3 separate regions of the Homo sapiens genome follow, and regions 2 and 3 are each linked to region 1. Evidence: fine-mapped expression QTL. A gene starts in region 1. Each other region holds a variant in brackets. All regions are shown on one strand. Distances are between the middles of the regions.

What was found.
Region 2: its variant is fine-mapped to the expression of EZR in whole blood (INTERVAL, PIP above 0.99).
Region 3: its variant is fine-mapped to the expression of EZR in whole blood (TOPMed, PIP above 0.99).

The regions. Positions count from the first base shown.
Region 1 is chr6:158,812,487-158,823,199 of GRCh38, reverse strand. EZR (ezrin) reads left to right here and starts at 3,832. Exons shown (of 14, transcript NM_001111077.2): 1 at 3,832-3,883; 2 at 5,034-5,118. The coding sequence starts at 5,107. It overlaps EZR-AS1 (EZR antisense RNA 1), which reads right to left and starts at 5,221. Exons shown (of 3, transcript NR_102425.1): 1 at 5,095-5,221; 2 at 2,607-2,728; 3 at 961-1,060. RefSeq lists enhancers at 1,578-1,677, 5,199-5,248, 5,731-5,900, 6,764-6,813, 9,933-9,982 and silencers at 3,549-3,598, 3,659-4,648, 4,789-4,988, 7,096-7,155.
Region 2 is chr6:158,742,834-158,753,546 of GRCh38, reverse strand. It overlaps SYTL3 (synaptotagmin like 3), which reads right to left. Exons shown (of 18, transcript NM_001242394.2): 12 at 7,889-8,067; 13 at 1,517-1,619. Among named protein-coding and RNA genes, the nearest start is that of MIR3918, 17 kb to the left of the region's middle. The variant T/C (reference allele first, on the strand shown) is at 5,671.
Region 3 is chr6:158,864,449-158,875,161 of GRCh38, reverse strand. LINC02901 (long intergenic non-protein coding RNA 2901) reads right to left here and starts at 5,348. Exons shown (of 3, transcript NR_160980.1): 1 at 5,185-5,348. RefSeq lists enhancers at 4,355-5,028, 4,959-5,128, 5,029-5,701, 5,702-6,374 and a silencer at 5,209-5,528. The variant T/A (reference allele first, on the strand shown) is at 5,379.

The DNA.
Region 1 (10,713 bases):
CTGAGCTTCCGGGAGGGCTGCCCTTCCTCACTTTAGTTTTAACCTTGTCTGAAGAACTCCCAGGAAATTACCAACAGCCCTTCACCAGGCTCAAGAGGCAGACTTAGGATTACCCTTCTCTAGCTGAAAAACTGGAAAATGGAAACCCGGCAATGAAGGGTCATTCAAGGTCTTATACCTAAACTAACAGCAGGGAAGTTTCCAGTAGTCCTGGCTCCAGTGTTTCCTCACTTCCTTCCAAGGCACTGAGTATCATATATTAACAAAAGGATGACTTTCAAACACAAGGAACAGCTTCACAAATGAGGGCTAAAAGGAGAGGCAAGTGAAATATGCGTCAAGGTCCTGCCACATCCTAAGTCAGTTGTTCTCAAATTGTGGTGTACATCATCAAAACCACGTGGGGACTTGTTAAAGAAACAGATTCCCAGGGGCTGCCTGAGACTTAGTCTTAGTGAGCCATAAGTCCTGGAGAAGGGCACTATGAGTGATTCTAATGCATATTCAAGTTTCAACACAGCTGGAGTTGAGTCTTCTGTGTGTGTGCTGGGGGCAGGGGTTTAGGTTCCAAACCCTGATGAAAATAAATTACCCTTAGAAAATCTTAAAACATTCATAAGATACACTGTAAGTGTTTCCTTGGTGGGCAGAACAGTACAGTAACATGTAAATGCTATGTTGTCATACTTACAGTAATGTAAGATACATGATAAGGAATGCATGTACAAATATGACTTTATACTATTTTAACTTATGTAAGAAAGATTATATAGCATCCCTCTGTATCCACAGGGGATTGGTTCCAAGACCTCTGAGGATACCAAAATTCTCCAATGATCAAGTTCCTGACATAAAAGGGTACAGTATTTGCATATAATGTACAAAATCCTCCTGTATATCTTAAATCATCTCCAGATTACTTATAATATGTAATATAATGTAAATACTTGTTATACTATATTCTGTATTGGATTTTTATTGGTATTTTAATTGTAGTATTATTTTTATTATTTTCCAAATCTTTTCCATCCAAGGTTGGCTGATTCCATGAATGTAGAACCTACAAATACAGAGGGCTAATTGTACATAAAAGTTGAGTGAGTCAAATGCTCATATGATATGATTCAGTGACACAAGAATACCATGAAATACATATTATCCTTTCCATTTTACAGATGAAGAGATGGATGCTCAGTCAGGTTGACAGACTTGCCCGAACGGACCAGGTTGGTCAGTTTGCAGGAAGCAGAATTCAGACTTAGCTCTGTTTGCCTCAAAAACCTGCCATCGTTTCATTTTTATTTTATTTTATTTATTTTTTGAGACAGAGTTTCGCTGTTGTTGCCCAGGCTAGAATGCAATGGTGCGATCTCAGCTCACTGCAACCTCTGCCTCACGGTTGGTTTCAAGTGATTCTCCTGCTTCAGGCTCCCGAGTAGCTGGGGTTACAGGCGTGCACCACCATGCCCATCTAATTTTTTGTATTTTTAGTAGAGATGGGGTTTCCCCACGTTGGCCAGGCTGGTCTCGAACTCCTGACCTCAGGTGATCTGCTCGCCTCAGCCTCCCAAAGTGCTGGGATTACAGGCTTGAATCATCGCACCTGGCCGTTTCATTTTTACCACACTGCCACAGGCCACTTCATTTTTTGGCATTCCCCTAAAGGGTAAAGTTCAGAAATGCTCTTCAAGGTCTTGGGGCACCGCTATTTCAAACATTCAATTTAGAAGACAGTATACTTCAAATGGAGCGAGATAAAAATTAGATTAGAGGCATATCCTATTATGAGAGTTGGGAACCCAAACTGGCTAACCAGGCTCCAGGCAGTGATAAGGCAGTGGAGGTATTGATGTCCAGTTGGAAACATTATCAGTGCAGGTAATTTAAATATCTTTCATAGTTTTCTTTCTACTGCAGTTACCATTATATCTTCATTTTATTTATTTATTTATTTATTTTTGAGACGGAGTTTCACTCTTGTTGCCCAGGCTGGAGTGCAATGGTGCGATCTTAGCTCACTGCAAGCTCTGCCTCCCGGGTTCACACCATTCTCCTGCCTCAGCTTCCCGAGTAGCTGGGACTACAGGCGTGCGCCACCACACCCAGCTAATTCTGTATTTTTAGTAGAGACGGGGTTTCTCCATGTTGGTCAGGCTGGTCTTGAACTCCTGACCTCAGGTGTTCCACCTGCCTCGGCCTCCCAAAGTGCTGGGATTACAGGCATGAGCCACAGCGCCCGGCCTATAACTTCATTTTAATAAAAAAGAAATTCAGGCCAGGAGTGATGGCTCACGCCTGTAATCCTAGCACTTTGGGAGGCCGAGGTGAGCAGATCACCTGAGGTCAGGAGTTCAAAACCAGCCTGGCCAACATGGTGAAACCCCGTCTCTACTAAAAATACAAAAATTTAGCTGGGCTTGGTGGCGGGTGTCTGTAATCCCAGCTACTCAAGAGGCTGAGGCAGGAGAATTGCTTGAACCTGGGAGATGGAGGTTGCAATGAGCTGAGATTGCGCCAATGCACTCCAGCCTGGGCAAGAAGAGCAAAACTCCGTCTAAAAAAAAAAGGGAAAGAAAAGTTCAGTCTTTCAGAGGGAATACACTTACCTGAATAGAGGTCAAAATCTCAGAAGAGGCCTCCCTCCTCTCTCTGACCTCTGAAATGCCCTGGATCTGCAAGTGGGAGATAACAGGCCCTGACAAAGGGTTGCCCAAACAGCAGTGTGTCCCTAGGAAGACAGGTTAAGCATCAATTACTATGAGGCTAGCACGAGTTAAGCATTCCACATGCACGATCTCATTTAATCCTTACAAGTCTATGTAGGTGGGGCTACTAGTATGTTCACTCAACAAATTGGGAAACAGAGTTTGGAACTTCGCCCAAAGTCATTGGTTTCTCTTTCTACCAGGATAGATTTAAGTGCTTACTAAGTGTCAGGTACTGTTCCAGGCATCGTACATGTACTAACTCATTATCCTCATTAGAACCCTCTGATACAGGTGCCATAATTATGCCGCTTTACAAACAAGAAAACTAAAAGCAGAAAGGGAGGAGTAAACCCAGGAGAGGAATTCAGGAGAAGCTCTGGTCTCAACCTTTAGCCAACATCACAATCACCCGAAGGGCTTGTAACACACTGATTGCTGGGCTCAGCCCTAGAGTTTCTGAATCCTAAGGCTGAGCAACACCTAATTTCCACTTATGCAAGTTCCCAGTGAATGCTGTTGCTGCTCGTCTGGAAGCCAGACGTTGAGAACCCCTTCTAGAGTGAGCTCTCCCGCAGCAAATTCTACTGGCCCCCAAAGTATGTGTTTTGTGTGTCTTAAAAATTTGTTGAGAACCATTAGCAAAAAAACAAACAAAAAAACTTAATTCCTAGAATTTCAGAGAAATCCCATGGAGCTTTTTGCCAGTCACGTCAAAAGAGGCCACAAACGTGCCACTTAACCAGAGCTTCGGAAAGGCGGCGGCTGGGCCGGCCACGTGCACCGAGACTCGGGGCCAGGTGCAGCCGCCCCAGGGCCGAGGCCTCGGAACTGGCCCCCGGTCCCGGCCCCAAGCGGTCCAGCGATTCCCCCAAGCCGTCCGCCCCTCCAGATTTATTTACGTTTTCCTGACTTCCCCCTGCCCGCTGTGGGACAAACAGCCTCCCCACTTGCATCTGCGAGGGGAGTAGCGCGCACTTCCGCCAAGTTCCGCCCCCACCCAGCCCGAGGCCCGGCTGCCGCCATCTTGCGGGGGGCGCACCTCACAGGTCGGGAGCTGGGCGGGAAGGGGCGTGGTCCCGGGACCCGCCCCGCCGGGGCTTTTGGGAGCGCGGGCAGCGAGCGCACTCGGCGGACGCAAGGGCGGCGGGGAGCACACGGAGCACTGCAGGCGCCGGGTGAGGCGTGCGGCGGCCGGGGTCGGGACGGGGGTTCTGGGCGGGGGGTTCCTGGTGGAGGGCCCGGGCGGGCGGCGGGGTTCGGCGGCAGGTGCGGCGGGCAGCCTAGGGGGCGCGGCGCGGGGTTCTCGCCCGGCACCCCCGGGGCAGGTGGAGCTGAGCCGGCCCGCGGCCCCGCGACCTTCCCCTCGGCGCCGGGTCCCCTCAGGTCTCTCCCGAAGGAAACGCGGAGCCTGGGTGCCTGGGCGCCGTCCCTCGGCGGCTCCCGAGCGGTTGCAGTTTTTGAAAGAGTTTCTCAAAGGCTTGACGGTTGTGACTGCAGCCGCGGGGCAACGGTTGCTACACAAAGTGAAACTTGCCGAGTGCTCGGCTTCTCACGGGCTTCCTGGCAGCCCCGGGAAGTTCCTCGGCGGACCCCGAGCCCGCGCCCCCTCTCCACGGATCCCTCCCCAGCGAGTGCCCCCCCGCCCGCCCTGTGCCCCCTCTCCCCTGACCCCTCCCTGTCGGGTGCCCCGCGGGCTCGCGCTGGCTGTCCCGGGACTCCTTCCTCCTAGGTGTTCCTCCTGCCCCTCGCCCTCTCTCTCCCAGGCGCGCGCTCCCTCTCCCCGGGCCTTTCCCCGCCGGGTATCCCTGGGCCCGCGCCCCCTCTTCTCCGCCTCTCTCCGCTGGGTGCACCTCGAGTGTCCCCCAGACCCCTCCCCGCCCGGCCGGCGCTCTCTCCCCTGACCCTCCTGGCCGAGTGTTCCCCGGGGCCCGCGCCCCCTCCCCCCGATCCTCCCCACTGAGTGTTCCCCCTGCCCTCTCTCTCCCGGGCCTGCGCCCCCCACCAGCCCCTTCATGCTGGGGGTCCCCTGGGTGCGCACCCCCTCTCCTCGGACCCACCCCCAACTGGGGGGCACCTCCAGTGCCCGCCGGCTGCCCCTTGGGCGCGCGCCCCCGCTCTCGGGCGCCTCCTCGCCGGGGGCCCGGCCCGGCCCCGCCCCGCCCGTGCCCCCTCCCCATGCCCGCAGTGCTGGGCGGGGCGCTGACTCACCCGGGCCCGGGCTGGCCGGTTCTTAAGCGGCAGCGCGCTGCGGGCGCCGAGTGTCGGGCGCGGCAGGAGGACGAGGCAGGGCGGGCGGGCGCTCTAAGGGTTCTGCTCTGACTCCAGGTTGGGACAGCGTCTTCGCTGCTGCTGGATAGTCGTGTTTTCGGGGATCGAGGATACTCACCAGAAACCGAAAATGCCGAAACCAGTAAGTTGCCCAGTTTCTGGGCCGGGCGGACGGGAGAGGCTTCATTGGAGAGGGGAGGCACCTGCTCGAGGTGTTGGGGCAGTTCCTGGGGAACAGGGTTCTTCTCACACGCAGAAGACGATAGGAATAGGAGGAGGTTTTCGCCGCTCTTTGTTACTTGTTGACCCTTTTGTGGAGCGTTAGGAAAACACCATTTTGATGCTTTTCTCTGCAGTCTTTTTCTTTGTGAGCCCCCTCCCCAGTAGTTACGGTCTTTTCTAAAAACTAGAGGCCTTTTTACACTGCTTCCGTCTGTTTTTAAAGGGTATAGTAATACAACTTAGAAGTTTCTTAAAAAGTCCAAATCACAGGGAGACTCAGATGGCTTCCGACCACACACACCAGTTCTCAGAGCTCCTAAGGGTCCGAAACCACAGGCGCCCCAGATCCAACTGGGGAGATATTAAAGGGCGTTTGGGAGAGGAGACTGGCTTTCGGAAGTTGCCTTTCAGCTTCGCTTCCTACTAGGCCCATGAAGCGGTGCCCTGTACACCAGCAAACTTGCTGGCTGCAGCAGAATTTCTGTCTCTAACAGAAGGTTAGCCATGGACTTGAATTGTAGATGCAGGCAGCCGGTGGAGTTTGATAAGAGGTTCCTGGCAGGCCGGGCCGAGCACTCCTGGTCAGCTGATGAAAGGGCTGTGCCTGCGCCTCTGTCTCCTTGAATCTGATTGTGTTGAGATTGCTGGCGAGACCTGGGGGTTGTAGGCACAAGGCAGGTTCTCTGGGACTGACGCTTCTTAGAAAGTTGTATGTATTCTACCTGCTTTTAACACTGGGGAACTGGTGACTAGACATTAGGGGGAAGGTTTAACATTTTTTGAGTTTTGAATCACAATGGACAAAATATCAGGATTCATTACAAATTGGGATTACAGATACATCTGGAATTTTTTTTTGGTTTTTCAAACAAGTTGGTTCTGTAATCAATGCTTGTGTGCCTTTTGTGGGGGATGGGGGAGCGGAGTCTCTCTCTGTGGCCCAGGCTGGAGTGCAGTGGCATGATCTCGGCTCACTGCAACCTCTGCCTCTCAGGTTCAAGCGAATCTCCTGCCTCAGCCTCCCGAGTAGTTGGGATTACAGGCATGTGCCACCATGCCCAGCTGGTTTTTGTATTTTTATAGAGAGGGGGTTTCACCATGTTGGCCAGGCTGGTCTAAAACTCCTGACCTCAGGTGATCTGCCTACCTCGACCTCCCAAAATGCTAGGATTACAGGCGTGAGCCACCACACCCGGCCTTGTGTGCTTCTTCTGTTACATTTTATGTTCTCTAAGATCTTTGTTAGAGGTATTAATTTTGCTGTTAGGATAAAGAATTAATATGCCAGTAGATTCAGAAGCCAATATAATTTTTGCCTAAGTTACATCAAGATGATTCATTTGTGATGCAGAGTATTTTCTATACAAAATTTTTCTTTTTAATTCAAACTTAAAAGTGACACGTGACATCGAGGCTTGACAGTGCATGTGGTATGAAACTGACCTAAGTACAACCCCTTACTCAGGCAGAGCTGAGTGCAACGGTATGCGGAGGAGTGGTCAAGAAGATTACCCTTCTGGGTGTGGTTTTCTTTATTTCACTAAAAGAAGAGGTGCAGAGCTCAGCTAAGATAGCACTCAGGAAAAAGTTAACCTGTTCTCCGTCACTACTTTTCTTTCTCATTTCTCATAATGAATGGTAATTTATTTTTATGGTTTCTTTTTTGTATTTTGGTAAAATATACAGTTTATCCTCTTACTTTTAGGTTTACATTTCAAGGTATTAAGTACATTTACATTGTTACATAGCCATCACCAAGGTCCATCTCCAGAACTTTATCTTCCCAGATTGAAACTCTGTACCTATTAAACTCTCCCTCCCCATCCCCACCACCAGCCCTTGGCAACCACCATTCTACTTTCTGTCTCTATGAATTCGACAACTTTAGATACCTCATGCAGGTGGAATCGTGATAGCATTTGTCCTTTTGTGACAGTCTCATTTCCTGTAGCATAATGTCTTCAAGGTTCATCCATGTTGCAATGTCAGAACTCCCTTCTCTCTCTTATTTCTTATGGCAGGTATGTTTTCATTTCATTTTGTTTTAGAGGTCTTTTATGATAGATCAGAACTTAAAAGATGTTTCTGACATTTGATAAAGTGAAGATAGTTGTGAAACTGTTAAGGAAAGACAGTAGCCATCACCTTGTGTATTAGAGCCAGAGTTACTCTTTGAAAGACTGTATTCTGTATAATATCTACAATTAAAATTTTTAAACTTTTTTTGAGGCCAGGCGAGGTGGCCTGATTACAGGCACGAGCCTGTAATCCCAGCACTTTGGGAGGCTGAGGCAGGCAGATCACATGAGCCCAGGAGTTCGAGACTTGCCTGGCCAACATAGACTCTGTTTCTACAAAAAATAGAAAAATTATCTGGGTGTGGTGGCTGGCGCTCTGACTGAGGCTGAAGTGGGAGGATTGCTTGATGAGCCCTGGAGGTCAAGGCTGCAGTGAACTAAGATCAAGCCACTGCATTCCAGCCTGGGCAGCAGAGTGAGATGTTGTCTGAAAACAAACAAAACCCCTTTTTTGAGAGGCTTCCTTTTAGGTCAGCCATACCTGTCTGCCATGGGAAATTTCTCCCTGCCCCCTCTTTGGCAGAGGAGGGTCTTAGAGATAAGTTAAACACACTAAGCCTTTCTGTGTGTAAATTATATTAGAGCCATCCCACAAATCACTGAGAAGAGCATCGTAGGTTGCACATATTTGAATATGACATTTCTTAAGGCTGTTAGAGAGGATCCAGTTAGTTTTGGTTTGGTTTGGGGTTTTTTTGCTGCCTTAGTAAATGTTAAAATGAAACATCCACCAACAGCTCTGTGGATGTGTCCTTTAAACAAAGGTTTATTGATTCTAATTATTCAAGCCTAAGTTAAGAATGTTAGCGAAGAATGTTAGGTGGTTTTCTTGGGCTTAATGTTTAACAACTGGATTAAGGGGCAAACACACTTAAAGGATGGATACCTCTGAGTAGTTGGCCTTCCACCTGATTCATTGCAACTGTTAACCCTTGAATTCAACGGGCAAAGTATTTTTGATTGATTTGCCTGAACTGAGTGAGTGGATGACTTTATTCATAAAACAGTATAACTGAAAATACTCATTTCCTGTGTTTTCTCCTAATACTGTTTCCCAAAAGCAACAGTTACTTAAAAGACTGAGGCGGTACACAGTGGCTCATGGCAGTAATCCCAGCACTTTGGGAGGCCGAGGTGGGCGGATCACAAGGTCAAGAGATCAAGACTATCCTGGTCAACATGGTGAAACCCCATCTCTACTAAAAATACAAAAATTAGCCGGGCGTGGTATGGATGCCTGTAGTCCCAGCTACTTGGGAGGCTGAGGCAGGAGAATCGCTTGAACCTGGGAGGTGAAGGTTGCAGTGAGCTGAGATTGCACCACTGCACTCCAGCCTGGCGACAGAGTGAGACTCTGTCTCAAAAAAAAAAAAAAAAAGACTTTATTCATCAGCAAGCGGAGTGACCTGCACAGAGGGCGAGGCAGACCTTGTTCTCTGGAAGCTTAGTGTCTGGTACCTGGGCCAAGATGCGGGGTAAATGCTGAAATTGAAAACCCGCTAAGTGCTGTCAGACTGGGAAAGAGCCTAGGTAACGTCGAGAGGAAAATCTGATGGGGAAAGGAAAATCATCTGATGGGGAAATTGGCAGACTGTATTGAGAAGTAACACTTCAGCTGAATCTTGCTTGAGGGCTGGGGGGCGCACGCGGCAGCACTCCACAGGGAGGAACAGCTGTGGTTTGTTGTCTGGTTTTGCTTTTCCCACAGCTGCTTAGGGACTCTATTCATGTGTGACTGGCTGACGTCCAAGGAGGGTGATTTGGGGTTCCAGAGGGAGCCTTGGCCTCTGTTCAGGCCAGTCCCCAGGACATGGTGTGCTGTGTGGCCTTGTGGGTCTGCCCCATCTAGGGAGAGTTGTAGGAGTTGGTGCTCAGATCATTGGTCCCGGAAGCATCCTCTCTGCCCGCCCCTTCATGTTAGGGTGACTGCGGAGCGCCTTTCTCCCACACTTGCTTTCTTCTGCCCAGTGGAAAGAAGGCATGGGGAGTGAGCAAGGAACACTGCTGTAGTTAAGCTCTGGAAGGAAAAGGGGATTGTGTTCAGGGCTGAGATCTCTTTAAGCTGTCATGAGAACCATAGAGCTGAACTGCCTTTAAGTGGCTCCAACACATCTTACCTGTTCATTTCTGAAGTGTTATAGACATTTCTAATACAAAAGCAGGTTTACCTTTCATTAGGAAAACTCTGAAAGTGTGTTCACATTTCTACTGTGCCAAAATTTTAAGGTAATTTCTGAGATTACCTTGCCTCTTTGGGAATACATAACCTTTTCTATTAAATATTTTAACAGGGACAGTTTACTGAATGTACTCCCCCCTCACAATCCCCTCGCAATTGAGGAGGATGCGTAGCATCTGTTTCCACCCCTCCTCCTCCACGAGGGGCAGTGGTGAATTAGGTAGCTAACATTTTGCCATGTGGCAGTGAGAGGTGCTGGTAGGATGAGTGATTTGCCATGATCACGCTGTAAGGCACAATGAATGTATTTGGATGTTCACAGACACAGTCCCTGTCAGTGGATTTACAGTCTGGTTTCGGGGACAGACAGCAATCCCAGAGTAAATGTAAAACTGCAGCTTCAGAGAGTATGCCTGAAGAGGGGTACATGAGGCCTGAGAGTAGATGAAGTGTGTATGTGCTGGTGGGGGTGCAAATAGGGGAGGTCAGGAAGGCATCCTTGAGGACGTGACCTCCCTGGGCAGAGGTAACAACGTGTGCAAAGGCCCTGTGGTGGGAGGAAGTAGTGTGAGTTTGGGGTTTCACATGAAGCCCAATGTGGCTAGAGAGGAAGACAGGTCAGGCCATGCCTTGTAAGCCATTCTTGGGTGTTTTTTAGTTTAACTTGGGGTTTTGACTGGGAGGTGACATGATCAGATTTGCCTTTTGAAAAGTTGACTGTGATCTGTAATAGGAAAATCACAGGAGGCAGGAGACAGCAAGGGTAGTTATGGTAGACCATTGAGGGAGCTCATAGCTTGGACCAAGGTGGTGGTGGTGGGAACAGAAGTGGATGCATTTGAGAGTTCTTTGGGAGGTAGAATTGATAGTGCCTGGTGATGGGTTGGATATGCAGGGCCAAGGGTGGTGTCGAGGCTGACTTCTCGTTTCTGGCTTGCGCAAGTGGATGTGTGGTGGTGCCATCGCTGAGGTAAGTAATCCTGGAGAAGGACCAGGTGTGGGGGAAGGTGGGGAGTCTGGATTTGTTGTTACATGTTAATAAGTTTGTGACAATCGTTGATGAAAAAAGTCCTTGCCTTCTTTCATTACTACATCCACTGCCCCCCAAAATATTAAAGGACCAGACTCCTTAAACTACGTTATTTTTAAATCCAAATAATTCAGTAGCTTTTTGTTTTCCCTAGTATATGTACACACCGTACATACCTAAAGTTAAGAGGAAGGGTTAATTTAGTGCAGTGTTCTCAAAATTTTGTGT
Region 2 (10,713 bases), 70 kb after region 1:
ATGTTAGCCAGGATGGTCTCGATCTCCTGACCTCATGATCCACCCGCCTCAGCCTCCCAAGGTGCTGGGATTACAGGCGTGAGCCACCGCGCCCGGCCCAGAATCTGCATTTTAAAAAAATCCCCAGTTCTAAGTACAGGGGCATCTTAGAAAATAAGAAATTTAGGCCTGGCGTGGTGGCTCAAGCCTGTAATCTCAGCATTTGGGAGGCCGGGGTGGGCAGATTACCTGGGGTCAGGAGTTCAAGACCAGCCTGGTCAACATGGTGAAACCCCATCTGTACTAAAAACACAAAAAATTTGCTGGCCATCGTGGTGGGTACCTTTAATCCCAGCTACTCAGGAGGCTGAGGCAGGAGAATCGCTTGAACCTGGGAGGTGGAGGTTGCAGTGAGCCAAGATCATGTCACTGCACTCCAGCCTGGGCGACCAAGAGTGAAACTCCATCTCAAAAAAAAAAAAAAAAAAAAGAAAAGAAGAAATGTTTTAAAAATGTAAATCCCCATGGGATTTTACGCACACAAATTTTGAGAACTGCCAGTCCTTTGTGGCTTTGAGCTGTATTTCTAAGGACTCTCTAGGTCTCAGTTTCCCCGTGGGTAAATGAGGATTCTAATAATTACCCCAGGCTGTATATAAAGCACTTGGCCACAGTAGGGACCCAGGAAACAAGGGCTATTATTATTTAATGAACTCAGGGCTCTGTGCCAGCTGCCCAGATGGCCCCTGGCTGGCAGCTCACAGACACCCCCTACTTGCCAAGAAAGGCAAACAAAGCCCTCTCCTGTCATAGGCATGAGACGAGGGGACCTCTGGCTGCCCAGCCCCGGCAGGGTAGCCTCTGCAGCTCTGGGCTACCCCCCTCACCCTGCACCAAGATTGGGGCCACCACAGCCAGCTCTCTGCAGATACCAGACCTCAGCTGCAGCCTTCCACCCGACATCAGAGCGCATGGCCCCATCTCTGCCCTCAACCATCAATCACATTTCCTAGTATCATAGAAAGTGAAAACCCAAACAATTCCTTTGTAAGATTTTTCATAAAAGGATTCATTTAAAAAAAATAAAATTAGAAGAAACCTGAGTTTGTCAGAAATACAATAAAGGGGCACTTTTACAAAGACAGTAACTCAGGAGTTTAATTTTCAGGGCACTCTGTCTGAGAGCACCTCTTTGACAGAAACATTCACTAAGACAAACTAATGTTTAAAATTATCCTGTGCCCCGGTGTTAGCCCGAGACAAAGAGGCAGCCAGGTTCTTTTTCACCATCTTCTCAGAAATCATTAATCAAAAGCCATTCCTGAGTCTGGCAGACTCTGCACTTTTCCTGTACAAAGGCTGACATTTATTTTCTACCAACTTAACACTGATTGACAGAGCTGCGAAGAAACATATAGGTGTCTGTATTATATCTAACTGAGTCAAGAGTTTGAAAGCACCATCCACTGGACTCTGCCCCAGGCGCTCCACCCGGGCTCGGGAGGACTCTGCACAGGAATATCTGTCCAGCAAGTACCTTCAAGGTCTCCTGAAAGGTCGGGTCCACGGTGTTCCTTTGGACTCCAGTCTTGCGCTTTCCCTGGGAGGATCTGTCGGGCAACAGGTAGGTCTTCACATACCTAGGGGCCAAACACAGCGGGGACAGAGTGAGAACTCAGGGAAAGGGGTGGATAAAGAGTTTGGGGGCAGCAGAGAACCCACATGCCAGCGTTTTCTTTACCAGGCTTCCTGCTGGAATTTTTGGGTTGATAGAAAGGACTTAATAGCCTAATAGTGAGCAACGTTAGTGCTGGGTGGGCAGCTTCTGATCCATGCAGTCTATGGTCAAATGCTAGCCACATAACCCTCTGGAATATTCCTGGGGGTGTGAAGCTCGTCCTGCCTTCCTCAGGCCCTACTCCATTTGGCGAAGACCATGGAACTAGAGATTCTCTCGCCTGCCTGGATGTCAAGGCCATGAGCCGGATTCCCGTCCCTTCTGCCACCCACCACCTGCAAAAGAAAAAAAAGTGGAAGTAGAAAGCATATGCCTCGCACTGTGCTGTTTCCTTGCAGGGGCCTCAAAGACTCTGCTCCTCCCAACCGCTGAGAAGTGGGATTCTGCTGAGTCTAGAGGTCGCACGCAGCATGACAGATGTCTCCATCTGCACTCACCCAGCCCCTGAAATCCAGGCGGAGAGGAAGACATGTCCTGTCCTGTTCTAGGCTGACCCCTCCATACAGGCCCCTACGCTGCCCTTCATGGCTCCTCTGGCAGCCCCAGTGATGGCAATGACCCCCCAACCAGCAGCAGCCCAAGCCCCCTCTCCACAGGCTAGAAACAGGCTCTACTTTCCAAAGTAAAAAATCACAGTGAGCCTCCTCTATCTGTGCCCTTCTTTAGCCCCAGTCTTGGGTCTCTTCTTCCCCCTAGGTTAAGCTTTTTGTGAAAATACTCGAAATCGGCCAGGAGGCCAGGCGCAGAAGCTCACAACTATAATCCCAGCACTTTGGGAGGATGAAGTGGACGGATCACCTGAGGTCAGGAGTTCCAGACCAGCCTGGCCAGCATGGTGAAACCCTGTCTCTACTAAAAATACAAAAATTAGCCAGGCATGATGGCATGTACCTGTAATCCCAGCTACTCAGGAGGCTGAGGCAGGAGAATCGCTTGTACCTGGGAGATGGAGGTTGCAGTGAGCCGAGATCGCGCCACTGCACTCCAGCCTGGGCAATAAAGCGAAATTCCATCTCAAAAAAGAAAAACAAAACAACCCAAAAACTGGCCAGGCACCTGGCTCAGGGAGGATTCCATAAGCCAGGAATTTGAGACCAGCGTGGGCAATACACAGGGAGAACTCATCTCCACGAAAAATTTAAAAGTCAACTGGGTGTGGTGGTGTGCACCTGTAGTCCCAGCTACTCGACGCCCGAAGTTGGAGGATCACCTGAGCCCAGGAGGTCAAGGCTGAAGTGAGCCATGATAACATCACTGCATTCCAGCCTAGACGGCAAAGCAAGACTCTGTCTCAAAAAATCAAACCAAAACAAAAAATCCCTCAAAACTCCATCTCTAATTCTTCACAGTTCATTTACTCTTAAGTTACTGAGCATTACACATTCATGCAATCTCAAATATGTAAAACAGAATATATAAAATATACCTATACGGTTGGAAGCATTATAATAAAGTGCACACCCATGTACCCCTGCCCCCCAGCTTAGGAAACAGAACATAACCAGTGACTTCCCTATCACAGTCCTGCCCGTAACCAGGTAATAACCACGTTGGATTTTATATTTATCACCCCCTTGGTTTTCTTTATGGTTTCACCATTTTGATGTGTCTCCTTAAACAATGTACTGCTTAGTTTTCCCTGTTTTTGAACTTTTATATAAATGGGATCATTCTGTATACATTCTTCCATAATTTGCTTTTTTTCACTCAATATTATGTTTGGGATTCATCTATGTTGCTGTAACTGCCGCTCATTCATCTCTAATCCTACGTATCATTCCACTGAATGAATACACAAGTCATTTATCCTGTTGATGAACATTTGTCTTATGTCCTAGTTTTTCCCTCTGCTCATGGTGCACATGTGCAAGCACTTCTCTTGGCATATAACCAGGAGTGATAGGGTATATGCCCCTTCAACTCTTCTAGATGATGCCAAATTACCAATTCAATCTCTTTAACAGATATAGAGTTATTCAGGTTTTCTATTTCATTTCATGTCAGTTTTGGCAATTTGTGTCTCTTGAGAATGTGTCGATTTCAGCCAGGTGTGGTGGCTCATGCCTGTAATCCCAGCATTTTGGGAGGCCAAGGCGGAAGGATTGCATGAGCCCAGGAGTTTGAGACCAGCTTGGGCAACATAGTGGGACCTCATCACTACTGAAAATTTTTTTTAATTGGCTGGGCACGGTGGTGTGCACCTGTGATCCCAGCTACTTGGGAGGCTAAGGCAGTAGGACCAGTTGAGCTCAGGAGTTTGAGACCAGCCTGGGCAACATAGTGAGACCTCATTTCTTAAAAAAAAAAAAAAAAAAAAAAAAAGAGAGAAAGAAAAGAAGGTGTTCATTTCATCTAAGCTGTTAAATTTATTAGCACAAAGTTTTACATAATATCCCCTTATTATATATTTTTTTCTTTCTTTTTTTTTTTTTTTTTTTTCAGACAGAGTCTCACTTGGTTGCCCAGGCTGGAGTACAGTGGCACAATCTTAGCTCACAATCACAGCCCTCCTGGGCTGAGGTGATTCTCCCACCTCAGCCTCCCAAGTAGCTGGGACTACAGGTGTGTGCCACCACACCTGGCTAATTTTTATTTATTATTTAATGAGAGGGAGTCTCACTCTGTCACCCAGGCTGGAGTGCAGTGGCATGATCTTGGCTCACTGCAACCTCTGCCTCCTGGGTTCAAACAATTCTCCTGCCTCAGCCTCCTGTGTAGCTGGGATTACAGGCACATGCCACCATGCCTGGCTAATTTTCTCTGTATTTTTAGTAGAGACGGGGTTTCACCATGTTGGCAAGGCTGGTCTTGAACTCCTGACCCTCAGGTGATCCACCCTTCTCGGCTTCCCAAAGTGCTGGGCTTGCAGCCATGAGCCCCCAGCCTGACCCCCTTATTATACTTGAATGTCTGCAAGTGCTGTCATGTTGTCTCTTCTTTCATTCCTATACTGGTATTTGAGTATTCTCTATTTTTTTTTTTTTCAGGCGGAGTTTTGCTCTTGTTGCCCAGGCTGGAGTGCAATGGTGTGACCTCAGCTCACTGCAACGTCTACCTCCCTGGTTCAAGGGATTCTCCTGCCTCAGCCTCCCTAGTAGCTGGGATTACAGGTGCCTGCCACCATGCCCGGCTAATTTTTGTATTTTTAGTAAAGATGGGGTTTCACCATGTTGGCCAGGCTGGTCTCAAACTCCTGACCTCAGGTGATTCACCTGCCTTGGCCTCCCAGAGTGCTGGGATTATAGTTGTGAGCCACAGCACCCAGCCTTTTTCTAGCATTTTAAGGTGGAGGTTTAAATAATTCATTTTAAGTCTTTTTCTTTTAAATATAAGCACTGCTTTAACTGCATTCCTCAAATTTTGAAATTTAAAAGTCAGGAAATACTTTTGGGGCAAAGACTATTCCAGTTTTCCTGAGGTAGACGGTACAGGAAGAGTAATAATAAAAGCTAAGACTAGAACAATAGGAGAGATTCTGTTACGAAGGAACCACAAGTGCTATAGAAATGTGTACTTAATTTGTCTGGTACTAAAGAGCTACTAAAAATTTCAGAGCAGAAGAGAGTTTGATTAAATCAACAATTGATTTCTTTTCCCATCATCACTCTTTAGCTGGTAATTAAAACAGTATGCCAGAAGTTCCCCATGTAAGAAAAAAGAAAGGCAAAACTGAGGCCCCTGCCTTAAACTATATATAGAAAATCAATTCCGCTTGTAATGTGAACAGATCTAAGTGTGGGGAAAAAAAAAAAAAAACGATAAGAAGAAACCAGAGAACGTATTTAAACCCTTGGGTGCCACAGGAATTCTTCTACAGACACAAAAAGCAGAGAGTTTAAAGGAAAAGCTTGATACATTTGATATTAAACTTTCTACAAGAAAAGTCATAATAAACAAGTTAGAAAACAAGTTACAGCTAGGATGGATAAAATACGTACAATACATATAACTAA[T/C]AAATAATTTTTAAACCTATTTAAATTAGGTTTAACAAAAAGCCTCTGGTAAATAAATAAAACAATAAACAATCCAATAGAAAAATGGGAGGCCAGGTGCAGTGGCTCATGGCTGTAATCCCAGAGCTTTGGGAGGCTGAGGTGTGAGGATGGCTTGAGCCCAGGAGTTTGAGACCAGCCTTGGCAACAGAACAAAACCCTGTCTCTACAAAAATAAGTTAAAAAATCTAGCTGGAAAAAAAAAGTTACAAATTTAGCCTCCTACATAGCTGAGACTACAAGCATGTGCCTCCCAACTACTCAGGAGGCTGAGGCAGGGAGATGGCTTGAGCCTGCAGTGAACTGTGATCGTGCCATTGCACTCCACTCCTGTAGTCCCAGCTACTCAGGAGGCTGAAGTGAGAGGATTCCTTGAGCCTACTAGGACTTTGAGGCTGCAGTGAGCTATAGTGGCACCACTGCACTCCAAGCTGGGTGACAAAGCAAGAAAGACCCTGTCTCTTAAAAAAAAATTAATTTTAATTAATTAAATTTTTAAAAAGAAAAATGGGCAAAAGATATGAATAGAAAACTCACAAAAGAATAAGCCTGGCCAGGCACAGTGGTTCATGCCTGTAATCCCAGCACTCTGGGAGGCCAAGGCGGGTGGATCACTTTAGGTCAGGAGTTCAAGACCAGCCTGGCCAACACGGGGAAACCCCGTCTCTACTAAAGATACAAAAATTAGCCAGGTGTGGTGGCGGGCACCTGTAATCCCAGCTACTCAGGAGGCTGAGGCAGGAGAATTGCTTGAACCCAGGAGGCAGAGGTTGCAGTGAGCTGACATCGTGCCAATACACTCCAGCCTGGGCAACAGAGCAAGACTCCGTCTCAAAAAAACAAAATAAAATAAACCTAAGTGGCAAATGCATATATAAAAAGTGGCTCAAAAGGCTGGGCTCACACCTGTAATCTCAGCATTTTGGGAGGCTGAGGTGGGAGAACTGCTTGAGTCTGAGAGTTCAAGATCAGGTTGAGCAACATAGTGAGACCCTGTCTCTATTTTTTTTTTTTTAAAACAAGTTGCTCATCTTTGTTAGTAATAAGGGAAATGCACATTAAAATAATAGTGCTGGCCGGGTGTGGTGGCTCATGCCTGTAATCCCAGCACTTTGGGAGGCCAAGGTGGGTGGATCACGAGGTCAGGAATTCGAGACCAGCCTGGCCAATATGGTGAAACCCCGTCTCTACTAAAAATACAAAAATTAGCTGGGCGTGGTGGTGCACGCCTGTAGTCCCAGATGCTCAGGAGACTGAGGCAGGAGAATCACTTGAACCCGGGAGGCGGAGGTTGCAGTGAGCCGAGATTGCGCCACCGCACTCCAGTCTGGGTGACAGAGCAAGACTCCACCTCAAAATAATAATAATAATAATAATATTATTATTATTATTATTATAATGGTGCTACACCTTTTCATGTCTGTCAGTGAGAATAACATTTTAAATCTCTTTATGGATTGTGTGAATCAAGATTTTAATTTTGTATTTCCTGCGTGGAAAGCCAAATTTTTCAACATCATTTATTGAAGTCCACTTTTCCCCACTGATCTGTAATAGCTCCACAACTGAATGTTTATGTCCACCTCGCTCACCAATTCATAGTTGAAGCCTGACCTACAATGTGATGGTATTAGGAGGTAGGGTCTCTGGGAAGTGATTAGGTCATGAGGGTGCAGCCCTCATGAACAAGATTAGTGCCCTCATAAAAGAGGCCCGAAGAGAGCTGCCTTGTCCCTTCTACCATGGGAGGACACAAGAAAACAGTCATCTAAGAACCAGAAAGGGGGCCCTCACTAGATACCAAATCTACCAGCACCTTGAGCTTCGACTTCCCAGCCTCCAGAACTGTGAGATATGTATTTGTCTTGTTTATAAGCCACCTGGTCTATGGTATTCTGTCACAGCAGCCGAAATGGACTAAGACACTCCTTGATCATGTAAGTTTTCATATACGCTAAGGTCTGTATCTGGACTTTTGATTCTACTTTCCTGACTTGTTCTGTCCTTGTATCAATAACACATTGTTTGCATTGCTACAGCTTTATAATAATACTTGAAGTAAGCCTTTTCATTTTGTTTTTTTTTTTAATAATTGTCTTGGTTATTCTTAGACTTTTACTTTTTCATATACATTTTGGAATCAATATGTCTCATGTTAAACTTAAAAAAAACAACTTACGGATTGCACTTTTTCTTCTTTTCTTCTCCATAGGCAAGGTTCTTACAGGCCTTGATGCATATTTCTAAAGAATGGGTTTTGAAGCAATAATGAATGGCAAATTCTATTTCTCCAGTGACATTAGCATTGTCAAAATTGCCCATCTCTGTACAGGTGCTGTCAATGCTAATTAAACTTCCCTGAAATCAAGAATAACAGATATAATAAGTTACTTCAGTTAATTCACTTTTTTGATGTTCTGGTTTCAAGACAGCACATAAATAAAAACTCATACAGCATGTATCCTGACTCACATCAAGTTAATAATGCACCAGCTTGTACTTTGCCAAAATAAGTTGCCACATGTTCTATCTCAAGGAGACAGAGAATCCTCAGAAGGCCCTCTCTTGCCTAGATACAGTTTTTGCCTAGCAATAAATGTTACACGATCTCATTCTTTAACACAAATTGCTTGGGGCGAAATGGACTAGCTCCTATGCAATTCTGCAAGATCACTCCCAGGAGGCCAAGATAATATCCATGGCAGGACAGCTATGCGGAAAGCGGCACAGTCTGGGGCTAAGTGGCTGCGACTGGGAATCAGATAGACCTGGACTCAAATGCTAGTGCTGCCACTCATTAGCTGTGGCAAAGTCTAACTGGAAAAAACCATACTGATCTCACAGGGCTATGGTGAGGAATAAATAGAATAAAGCAAGTAAAGTGTGCACCCAATGGTAACAGTAAATTGTATCTGAATTTTTCTGGTTACCTAAAATGAAAAATAAAACTATCATCACAGTCTAGGGTACTCCAAGCTTATACGATGTAGATAAGGAGAGGCTAATGAATGTTATTAATTAGCACAAAATTCCTGGGCCTAAAAGATACAATCAGCTACCTTATCACTATTAAACGTGCTTAAATACTTTGCATGCAACCAATCTCTGTGCTGCCTTTTTATAGGAAGACAAGCCTAACTGATTTCTACTTCGAATTCCCAACTAGCTCCTCCACACTATAAAACATCTTGAAAAGAAACTAAGAAACAAGCATGGGAGTGCCGGGTGCAGTGGCTCACGCCTGTAATCCCAGCACTTCGGGAGGCCGAGGCAGGCAGATCACAAGGTCAGGAGATCGAGACCATCCTGGCTAACAAGGTGAAACCCCATCTCTACTAAAAATACAAAAAAAGAAAAAAAAAATTAGCCAGGCATGGTGGCGTCCCAGCTATAGTCCCAGCTACTCCGGAGGCTGAGGCAGGAGAATGGCGTGAACCCAGGAGGCGGAGCTTGCAGTGAGTGGAAAGTGCCCCACTGCACTCCAGTCTGGGCGACTGAGCAAGACTCCGTCTCAAAAAAAAAAAAAAAAAAAAGAAAGAAAAAGAAAAAAAAAACAAGCCTGGGGGCAGAAAGTCAGAACCACAAGGGAAAGATAAAATAGAAAAAAAAAACAGCAACTGAGACCAGGCGTGGTGGCTCACCCTTGTAATCCCAGCACTTTGGGAGGCCAAGGAGGGTGGATCACTGGAGGTCAGGAGTTCGAGACCAGCCTGGCCAACATGGTGAAACCCCGTCTCTACTAAAATACAAAAATTAGCCAGGCAAGTGGCGCGTACCTGTAATCCCAGCTACTTGGGAGGCTGAGGCATAAGAATTGCTTTAACCTGGGAGGCAGAGGTTGCAGTGAACTGAGATTGTACCACTGCACTCCAGCCTGGGCGACAGAGTGAGGCCCCATCTCAAAACAAACAAACAAACAATAAACAATACCAACAAGTCATCAGACAGGCTGGAACCTGAACTGATGAATGCTAAGAACAAAACAAGCTTCACCACATCCAGTCACTGGCTCTGAAAAATCTCACCTGTCAACACCATTCCACTGTTAAAATGGAAAACAATGTAAAATTTTTACACACTCAAAAAGGCACAGGCCGGGCACAGTGGCTCATGCCTGTAATCCCAGCACTTTGGGAGGCAGAGGCAGGCGGATCACTTGAAGTCAGGAGTTTGAGACCAGCCTGGCCAACATGGTAAAACCCCATCTCTACCAAAAAAAAAAAAAAAAAAAAAAAAAAAGCTTGGACTGGTGCACCAGCATGAGTGAGTGAGGTATGAGAAGTGAAGATAGAAGAGAATGGACAGAGGAGCTTGGCAAAAGGTGTGAGCAGCCTGAGAGAAGAACCAGGTAGATGAACGGAGAAGCTAATGAATCATACAGCATTTGTCATGGGACTCAGCTTCAGGCTATGTCAGACTAAATGGTGTTACACACACTTTTCTGCTGAGAACAATTAGAAAGCTGAATTAAACAACTAAACTATTTCAAGAGATTGTAGAGCTGCCAAGACCACCAGGATGCAAGGGGCCAAGATGCTGAAGAGAAGCACATGGAAGTAAGCCTGACATCCGGAGCTGCCTTTCACTTCAAGGCATAAGTCCCTGTGTAAGCAACACAGGACTTGATTCTATCCTACTGACCTGCTTGACTCTCCTTGCATCAGGAGCACATTGAATCACTACCGCTGCACGTCCAAGGGCTGGACGGCCAAGATGTCAATCAAAATGAAATGGCAAAGAGACTCAGAAGCTCAGCAGAGTTTTCAGCAGTCTAACGGGACTGGGGGGCAAAATCAGCATTCAAGGCTACGAAGTCATGGGGAACCTGAGGAGCTAAGGTCCCAGAGACAGGGCAAATCCACGAGTACCGAGATGCTGCCTTTTCCTCAAGGCGTTTGCTGAACTGGAAGCTGTGGCTGAGGGGCCGAGAAGCTTAAGAATGTTTCCAGCTGGCTGGACGCAGTGGCTCACACCTGTAATCCCAGCACTTTGGGAGGCCGAGGC
Region 3 (10,713 bases), 52 kb before region 1:
CTTAGGAGGCTGAGGCAGGAGAATCACTTGAACCTGGGAGGTGGAGGTTGCAGTGAGCCAAGATTGTGCCATTGCACTCCAGTCTGAGCGACAAGAGCAAGGCTCTGTCTCAAAAAAAAGAAGAAAGATTTAGTATCAATAATCCAAGCTTCCACCTTAGAAAACTATAAAAAGAAAAGAATATAAGCCTAAAGCAAGCAGAATAAGAGGAAAATAATAATAAAAATTAGAACAGAAATCATTGGAATTGAAAATAGGAAATTAATTTTAAAAAATCAAAACCAATAATTAGGAATGAAGGATAGGCTATCACTGAGCACCCCACAGACTCTAAAAGGGTAATAAATTACACAAACAACTGTGCACACATAAATTTGACAACTTACATAAAGTGGATCAATTCTTTGATGGCCACGAGCTACCAAAACTCATCCAAGAATAAATTAAAAACCTAAATAAATCCTTTATCTATTAAAAAAATTGAATTTCTAGTTGAAAATCTTCCTTAACAGAAATCTGCAGCCCCAAATGGTTTCATCAGCAAATAGTACCAAAGATTTTAGAAAGATATAACATGAGCTCTACATAGTTTCTTCCAGAAAACAGAAGTGGAAGGAATGCTTCCTAACTCATTTTATGAGATGAGCATCATCATGATACTAAAACCAGATAAAGAAAATACAAAAAAAAAAAAAAAGATCCTCATGAATCAATATCCCTCATCAACACAGATGCAAAATACTAACAAATTGAAACAGTAATACATAAAAAAAAATTACACACCATGATCCGGGGTTTATTCCCGAGATGCAATATTTGAAAATCAATGAAAATGTAATCTGCAACAAGACCACATCAACCGACAATATTCAACATCAATTCACGGTACAAGCAGTCGGCAAATGAGGAATCGAACAGAGCTCTCTAAACCGATAAAGCACACCTACAAAAAAGCCTATAACTAAACACACTGTGAAAGACGTAATGCTTCTTTCCCTCTAAGATCAGGAACAAGGCAAGGAACTCCACCTCACCCCTCCTACTCAACATTGCACGGGAAGACCTATCTTGTCAAACAGGGAAATAAAATTTAATGAAAGTCATACAGATTGGAAAGGAGAAAACGCAACTGTCCCTAGTACCTATTCACAAACATGATTGCCTGTGTAAAAAATCTCATGGATTCCATAAAAACCTTCTAAAACCAATGTCAGTTTAGTGAGATTGCAGGATACAAGGTTAACACATGAAAACCAACTATATTTCTTTATAATAGTAATGAATATCCGGAAACCAAATTTTTTAAATCACAGTGGCTTTGAAAAATAGTCTGCATAAATCTAACAAACCACGTAAAGGATCTATATATGAACACCACAAAATGCTGATGAAAGAAATAAAACAATCTAAATAAATGTAAAGACATACTATATTCACAGACTGGAAGACTCAATACAGTTGTCAATTCTCCTCCAATTGATCTATAGATTTAACACAAATACAACCAAAATCCCCCACGTGGTGGGGCACAGTGGCTCACCTGTAATCCCAGCATTTCAGGGACTGAGACAGGAGGATCACTCGAGGCCAGGAATTTTGAGACCAGTATGGGCAACATAGCGAGACCTCCGTCTCTACCAAAAAAAAAAAAAATTTTTTTTTAATTAGCCAGGTGTGGTGATGCACACCTGTGATCCTAGCTACTCAGGAGGCTGAGGCAGAAAGATCCCCTGAGCCCAGGAGTTTGAGGTTACAGTGAGCTATGATGGCACCACTGCACTCCATCGGGGCTACAGACTGAGACTCTGTCTGAAAAACAAAACAAAACAAACAAAAAAAGAACAAAATTCCCAGCAGGATTGTTAAAACATATAGACAAGCCTAAAATACATATGGAAAGTCAAATGAAGTAAAATACCCAAGTAATCAGGAAAAAGAACAAAGTTGGAGGGCGCTAAGACTTACTTTAAAGCTACAGCAATCAAGACAGTGTCGTGTTGGTGAAGGGATAGACACAGATCAATGAAACAGAACAAATGGTCCAGAAATAAATTCACACAAATATGGCCAACTGACGTTTCACAAAGTGGCAGGTGCAAAGTCAATGGAAGGGAGTCTTTTTAATAAAGAACTTGTATCCAGAATATTTAAAGAACTCTCAAAATTCAATGGTAAGAAAACAACCTGATTTTGGCCGTGTGCGGTGGCTCACGTCTGTAATCCCAGCACTTTGGGAGGCCGAGGTGAGCAGATCACCTGAGGTTAGGAGTTCAAAACCAGCTTTGCCAACACGGTGAAACCCCGTCTCTACTAAAAATACAAAAATTAGCCGGGTATGGTGGCGCATGCCGGTAATCCCAGCTTCTCAGGAGGCTGAGACAGGAGAATTGCTTGAACCCGGGAGGCAGAGGTTGCAGTGAGCCAATATCGTGCCATTGCACTCCAGCCTGGGTGACAGAATTCTGTCTCAAAAAAAAAAAAAAAAAAAACCACTAGGAAATACTGCTGCATAACCATCAAAAATTTAAGACTGTTAACACCAATTGTTGGCAAGGATGTGAAGTAACTATAATTTTCTTTTCTTCTTTTCTTTTTTTTTTTTTTTGAGATGGAGTTTCACTCTTGTTGCCCAGGCTGGATGGAGTGCAATGGCATGATCTCGGCTTACCGCAACCTCCACTTCCCAGGTTCAAGCGATTCTCCTGCCCCAGCCTCCCGAGTAGCTAGCTGGGATTACAGGCATGCGCCACCATGGCCAGCTAATTTTGTATTTTTAGTAGAGACGCGGTTTCTCCATGTTGGTCAGACTGGTCTCGAACTTCCAACCTCAGGTGATCTGTCTGCCTTGGACTCCCAAAGTGCTGGGATCACAGGCGTGAGCCACCTCGACCAGTCCTTTTTTTTTTTTTTTTTTTTTTTTTTGAGATGTAGTCTCGCTCTGTCACCCAGGCTGGAGTGCATTGGCATGATCCCAGCTCACTGCAACCTCTGCCTCCTGAGCTCAGGAGAGTCTTCTGCCTACGCCTCCCAAGTAGCTGGGACTACAGGCGTACGCCACCATGCCCAGCTAATTTTTTTTTTTTTTTTTTTTTTTTAGTAGAGATGGAGAATCACCATATTGGCCAGGCTGGTCTCGAACTCCTGACCTCGTGATCCACCTGCCTCGGCCTCCCAAAGTGCTGGGATTACAGGCGTGAGCTGCTGCGGCCAGCCAATTTTCAAAAATTGATTCAATCCTTTTGGGAAACTGCCAGCAGTGTCTACTAAAACTAAATATACACCTATCATCCTATGACACAAAAATTCCTTTTATAGGTATATATCCTACTAAAATCAATTATTCATCATACTACATGAATGTTCAGAGCAGCTTTATGCATAATAGCCAAAAACTGAAAACAACCCACATACACATCAATGGTAAAAAGGATAAGTTAACTTAAGTATATTCATGCAATAGAATACTATTCAGTAATAAACAAACTTCAAACTACTGATACGTGTGATAACATGGAGGAATCTTACAGACACTACGGTGGGTGAAAAAAAACAGAAATGCAAAGGTGTCCAATCTTTTGGCTTCCCTGGGCCACACTGGAAGAATTGCCTTGGGCCACACATAAAATACACTAAAATTAACAATAGCTGATGGGCTAAAAAAAAAAAAAAAAAATCACATGGCGGGGCGCGGTGGCTGATGCCTGTAATCCCAGCACTTTGGGAGGCCGAGGTGGTCAGATCACCTGAGGTCGGGAGTTTGAGACCGGCCTGCCCAATATGGTGAAACCCCATCTCTACTAAAAATACAAAAATTAGCCAGGTGTGGTGGCACCAGCCTGTAATCTCAGCTACTCGGGAGGTTGAGGCATGAGAATCGCTTGAACCTGGGAAGCGGTGGTTACAGTAAGCCGAGATCACACCACTGCACTCCAGCCTGGGCAACAGAGACTCTGTCTCAAAAAAATAAATAAATAAATAAAGTCACAAAAAATCTCGCAATGTTTTAAGAAAGTTTACAAATTTGTGTTGGGCCACATTCAAAACCGTGGCCTGTGCGGGTTGGACAAGTTTGGAATAAAGCATAATGCTTGATTGCAATTACATGAAGTTTAAGAGTAGACACAACTCATACTTGGTAATTTAAGTCCAAATGAATAGTGGTTACCTCTGGGGAAGTACTACTGACCGGAAGGAGCAGTTGGAAACCTGGGGTGATGGAAATGTTCTAGATCTTGACCTAGGGGCTAATGACATGTGTATACATATGTAAAACTTCACCCAGCTGTCCTCTTAATTTCTGTGCGATTTATTGTGTGTAAATTATATCAGTTAGGAAAAAATAAGAAAAATGAAGGAATGATGGAGAAAAAAAGAAATGAAGAGAAACGTAACGAAGGAAGAAAGAAGGGAGGAAGGGAGGGAGGGAGAGAGGAAGGGGGGATTAAACCCAAGCACGGAGGGGGAGAGATGCTCCTCAAAAATATGCTATCAGTCATGTAGTGTTATTTATTTATTTATTGAGATGGAGTCTCGCTCTGTTGCCCAGGCTGGAGTGAGTGGCACGATCTCGGCTTACTGCAACCTCCACCTCCCAGGTTCAAGAGATCCTCCTGCCTCAGCCTCCCGAGTAGCTGCCATTACAAGCACACGCCATGGTGACCGGCTATTATCTGCATCTTAAAGATGGGGAAAGTTTGAGGTTTCCTGATGTGTTCAGCGTCACAGACTGGGTGAGTGACTCAAGCTGAGGCTAAAACCCAGGTGTGTAGGGCACCAAAGCCTTTGTGATTCCACCTCCTACAGCTCAGGTCACTTCCTCGGAGAAAGGTGACTCCTAGAAATGCCTCCCACCTGGAACTGATCTCCTCCTGGGAAGAACGTCTGTCTTATCGCCGTCGACCTTAGGCATGGACACCCTTCTGTCCCCCACCCACAACTGTGAGCCTGCTCAGGAGGCACAGCCGCGTTCATTCATTTTAGGCCTCCTCAAGGGCTCAGCGCCTGCTAAGCAGATGCGCGTTCCTGTAGGACAAGGGGTGGCCACTGGAGACGCGGGTGCGACGCAGGCGATCACGCCCTCGGACGACGCTGCGGACTGCGCTTCCTTCCGAAGAGGGAACCGTTGAGAAGAGTGAAGCGATGAGTTATGCCTCACTGGAAACCAACCGCGTCCGTGTGACTCACTTAGAAACTCACTGTTACATATTTGGAGCCTGAGCTGACGACCTTCCGGGTACACGTCAGGCAGAAGCAGGTGCGCGGTGGGAGTGTCCGCCCCGCCCCGCCGGTCGCGCCGGCCCCGCCCCCCTCACCTGCGCGCGCAACCCCACCCCAGCGCGAGGCTCTGCACCGGCCGCGCCCGCCATCCAGCTTTTATA[T/A]GGCGCTATTTTGGTCGCGCGCCCTGATTGGCCGGGAGCGGGCGACGACACGCTCGCGCGCCTCAGGGAGGGGCCAAGATCTGGGGGAGGGGAGCTTCTGGCAGCCGCGCGGATCCGGGGGCGGCGGGGCGGGACTGCTGCGGTCTCTGGGGGTGCTTTGGGGCTTCTGTGCCTAGTCTGCAATCTGTTAGTGGGGTTATATTTTAATAAAAGAGCTTGTGTGTCCGAAGGGGATTTGCCAAGAACCAAACTCACCCTTCTGGGAGGGAGTTGCCAGATGGCGGGAACAGGCGGCGTAAACCTTACCAGACGTGAGCCCAGGCTGCTCAAGTGTCATTCGCGTCTTGAAGCTCTTGCCCGCCTCCCTTTGCAAGCGCGTCTAATGCCAACTCTACCTTGCCCTTTGCTAAACCAGCCCTCTAATGTGTTATCGTGCCTCACGTCAGACAATGGCTGGGCCTGTCTCTCTTTCCCCTTGGTTCTGTCCTCTGCCCTTCTCTTAAGCCAGAAGAACAAAACACTCCTTAGAATCGCTGGAGGATCTCATTTCCACCACATTCCCGTGTCCGGAGCCGAAGAGCCACGTCTGACCCTCACTGGTCTGGCTGTCCACCAATCAGGCAGCATTGCTTCTCTGAGTCTCAAGGTTATTAAATTTCTTCTGGTGGCAGACTGGTTTTGTACTTTGGTGAAAGTGACCAAATAGGTACGAAGTGTGATTCATCAAAAATTCTTACACTTAAAAAGATAAGCCAAAAGGATCATTCGAAGCCACCACTCCATATTAGATGGGAACTTAGCTTGAAAGGGGTTCTCTTAAGGATTTCTATTTACTTCTTTGAATTACAAATATCATCTCTGGTTGGAAAGCCTATAAACGCCTCTGAGATTTCCTGAGTTCACAACTTTGAAGATCATTTGCAGCTGGATGCAGAAAAAACAAACCTAGTAATTGTTGAATGTGGACATCAATAAGAATTAAGTACTTTTGGCCCAAAGGCAGTGGTTCACACCTGTAATCCTAGCACTTTGGGAGGTCGAGGCAGGAGGATAACCTGAGGTCAGGAGTTCCAGACCACCCTGGCCAACATGGTGAAACCCCATCTCTACTAAAAATACAAAAATTGGGTGGGCGTGTTGGCGCATGCCTGTAATCCCAGCTACTCAGGGCTGAGGCACCGAATTGCTTGAACCCAGGAGGCAGAGGCTGCAGTGAGCAGAGATCATGTCACTGCACTCCAGCCTGGGCGGCAGAGCAAGACTTGTCTCCAAAAAGAACTTTCAATGTGCCAGGCATTTTAAATGCTTAACAGGCATTTCATTTAATCCTCACAAAATCCCCATGACTTAGATACTATTATTATACCCATTTTACAGAAAGGGTCTAGAAAGCTTGCATAACATTGTGTCTGGACTTGGTTCCTGCCAGTGGGTTCGTGGTCTCAGTGACTTCAAGAATGAAGCCACAGACCTTCGCGGTGAGTGTTACAGCTCTTAAAGATGGCCGGGACCCAAAGAGTGAGCAGTAGCAAGGTTTATTGTGAAGAGCGAAAAAGCTTCCACAGCATGGAGGAGGACCCAAGTGGGATGCCGCTGCTGGCTGGGGTGGCCAGCTTTTATTCCCTTATTGTCCCCACCCATGTTCCATTTCTATCCTATCAGAGTGCCCTCTTTTTCAATCCTTCCCGTGACTGGCTACTTTTAGAATCCTGCTGATTGGTGCGTTTTACAATCCTCTTGTAAGACAGGAAAGTTCCCCAAGTCCCCACTGGACCCAGGAAGTCCAGCTGGCCTCACCTCTCAACATGACTCATGCAACACATTAGTACCATGGCAGTGCCGGGATTCACACCCAAGGTTGTCTGACTCCTGTGTGCCCTTAACTACTAAGCTCTGCAGTTTCTTCTTTCCTAACCAGAAACTTAGTCTTAAGCGGGCCCAGAAGGAGTTGGGATCACTACCAGGTGTTACAAATCTTCAGGAAGACATTTGTCCTGCTGCTGGTTTAAGAAAAGGATTGCTACTGTGGGGCGTGGTTGCTCACACCTGTAATCCCCACTATTTGGGAGGCTGAGGTGGAAAGATCACTTTAGCCCAGGAGGTTCAGGCTGCAGTGAGCTGTGATCACACCGCAGCACTCCATCCTGGGTGACAGAGCGAGACCTTGTCTTAAGAAAAAAAAAAAGATTGCTATGTGAGAGGGAAAATAAGGGTGCCTACAGTCTCAACAATCTCCGCTTCCCCTGAGCAACAGACCATATTAAATCTGCAGTACAAAGTTTCTGAAAATGTCTCAGATTCTGCTGTGTTCATCAATTTGGAGAACGACCTGTTTACAAAGTGGCCTCACTTAGATCCACTTGGTTGGTTAGGAACCAGGAAGCAAACCGATCATAAGAATGACTTTCAAACTTTCTTCTACACTTTCTTCCAAAAAGCTACCAGAACTACCTGATAGAAATTCCAAATACAGTAGACCCTGCAGTGGAAACTGCCTTGGAGCCAGGCAGGCTTGGGTTTAATCCCCAGTCCCACCATCCCCCAACCCGTCTCTCTGAAGTTGTATGAATTTCCAAACTTTTATGAACCTCAGATTCTTTATTTGTAACCTGTTTGGCTGAAAGGATTAACTGAGATCTCTGAAGTTCCTGAATTATTGAGTGGCACAAATAGGTATTCAAAAAAATGTTCATTATCTTTTTTGCTCCTTCCCGTGAATGATTAAGAAGAAAAGCACCTAGTCATGACTATTCTATCTTTATTATTTCTCTTACAGAGCTACATTGACTGTACTAAGTTTCATAGTCAGGTAGTAATTTACAGTAAGACTTAATTATCATCCATAACTTTAAATGTCCTTATCAAAACTTCAACGACATCACTTCCAAATACTAGCATTAGCTTTGTGTCTGACATTCATTTAACAAAGTTACTAAAAATCTATTAAGTGTAAGACTTTGGTTATTTTTTAATAGAACTTTCTGAAAACTTTTCAGCAATATAGCCTATTGAGAAAAATGGGTATGTTGAAAAACAAAAACAAAAAGCATGGTTTACAAACAAGTATTAGGGAAATAGTATTTTTATTATTATAACCTGTTCCTTCTTACTGCTCCCAAGCTCCAACTCTGACCATAACTCTTAATGAAAATAATTTGGTCTGGTAAGACTAAATAAATAAAAAAGAAAACAAAGTTTATTGAAAAGCAAAACATTGGGCTGGGCACAGTAGCTCATGCCTGTAATGCCAGTACTTTGGGAGGCCAAGGTGGGAGGATTACTTGAAGCCAGGAGTTTCAGACCAGCCTGAGCAATGCAGTGAGACCCCATCTCTAAATAAAAAAGAAAAAGAAAAAAAGACAAAAAACTAAGAACAGAAAGTAGAATTTAAGAAAAATTAAAGATGTTCCTTTACAAACATAATTCAGAGATGCTTTTCCCTTTTAAAGCCATTCAGTATTTTTTGTCAATTGATTTTGCATCATAGACATGACCCATCATTTTCAACACCGCTAATCAGTCAAAGGGAGACTTTTAAGTCTTCAAGTATAAAGTTGTAAAATGTGCAGTGTGTGTTGCACATCAGGGTAGTGGTGGATACTACTGCTAAAATACAAAATTTGCAAACCATTAGACATCCAAGTAAGTTTTAAATGAGCAGATTTCCAGAAATTTGGAAAGTATTAACAAAATGGTTTGAAATTAAGTGGAACAACTTTTCTAGCTCAAAAGAATATGACTTAGGCAACACGTACTTGACACCCAAACACCTGTGTGGATTAGTTGATTTAGTCAAATGAGCAGCCAGCTCAATAGAAAAGAAATTCATCAAACTCACTTTTTTAGACCACATTCACTTCTGCTTTTAGACTTAGCAATCTTTCATAGCACTTGTATCTAAGTAATGTGAAATTAACATATATATTAAATATGTAAGATCAATTATTGAAAAAACTGATGTTATTAGCTACAAAAATAGTAACATGAACTGAGGATGCACTGTAATAGATGCCGGATGCCAGAGTGGTTCAACATAATCATTTTGATTCTCCTTTTAACTCCTGTCATTGCCAGCAACAGTGATTTAGGTTGTGGTTGGCTCAGATTATCTTTTGCTGCAATAAATTTTTGCTGCAATAAAGGGCTGCTGTTGAAAACCTGCCTGTTCTCTAACTCATTACTGTTGCCCCAATACTACATCTTCTATTAAACAAAACTGAGGAGCCAAACGCTAGCAGGTAGTGAAAATGTCCTCTACTATTGCTAAACAAGTGAACACAGCCATCACCCTGAAACCTGAGCATTCAATGAGAATCTACATTTTAAATGGCTCTTTTGAAGCATTCATTCATCCATCCAGTCGTTCAACAAATAATTCTTGCTTTCTATGTCCCAAGCATGTACATAGGAATAAATAGGAGTAGTTCATGTTTCCTGCTATGGAAGGGCTTGCAGTCTAGTGGAGTGAGAGATGAATAAGCAAATAAGGCAGCTGAGAGCTAATTGCAACCATGGAGGAATTTAAGTAGGTGTGCAAAGGTGGAAGGATGGGGAAGGCTATGGAGATTGTAGGCAACACCAAGCACAAGGCTCACGATCTGGGAGTGTCGGGGGATAAGGTCAGTCAAAACACAGATGGCTTGACAGCCACGCTAAGGCATTAGACCACCATCCTGAGGGCAGTGTGGAGCTTACAGGCAGTTGAGAGAATATCAGAGTGGGGAGCCCCAGTGGCTCACGCCTGTAATCCCAGCACTTTGGGAGGCCGAAGCTGGTAGCTCGCTTGAGGTCAGGAGTTCGAGACCAGCCTGGCCAACACAGCGAAACCCCGTCTCAACTAAAAATACAGCAATTAGCCAGGCATGATGGTGCGTGCCTGTAGTCCCAGCTACTCAGGAGGCTGAGGCAGGAGAATTGCTTGAACCCGGGAGGCAGAGGTTGCAGTGAGCCGAGATTGTGCCACTGCACTCCAGCCTGGGTGACAGAGCGAGACTCTGTCTCAAAAAAAAAAGCAAAGAGAATATCAGAAAGGCTGCTTCCTGGAGCCTGCTGACTGGCTTTCCATGCTGTACAGAAGGAAGAAAAAGGGAAGACTCGGCTCTAGTGTCCAGTTCTCCTGGGCTGTGGTATTGTCCTTAATATTTGCCTCAAGATATTTTACTGTCTCTGTTTTACCCAGAACCAGAACGTCAGGTGAATTTGCAGGATTTTTAGGGAAAGCATTTTACCAGATGTCATCAGTCATGGTTCTGTGATAGTGAACAAATGGTTCCAGCAGCCTGGGAGATCATTACCACGTTTAATACATACAGTGTTCTTATACATACAGAATTGG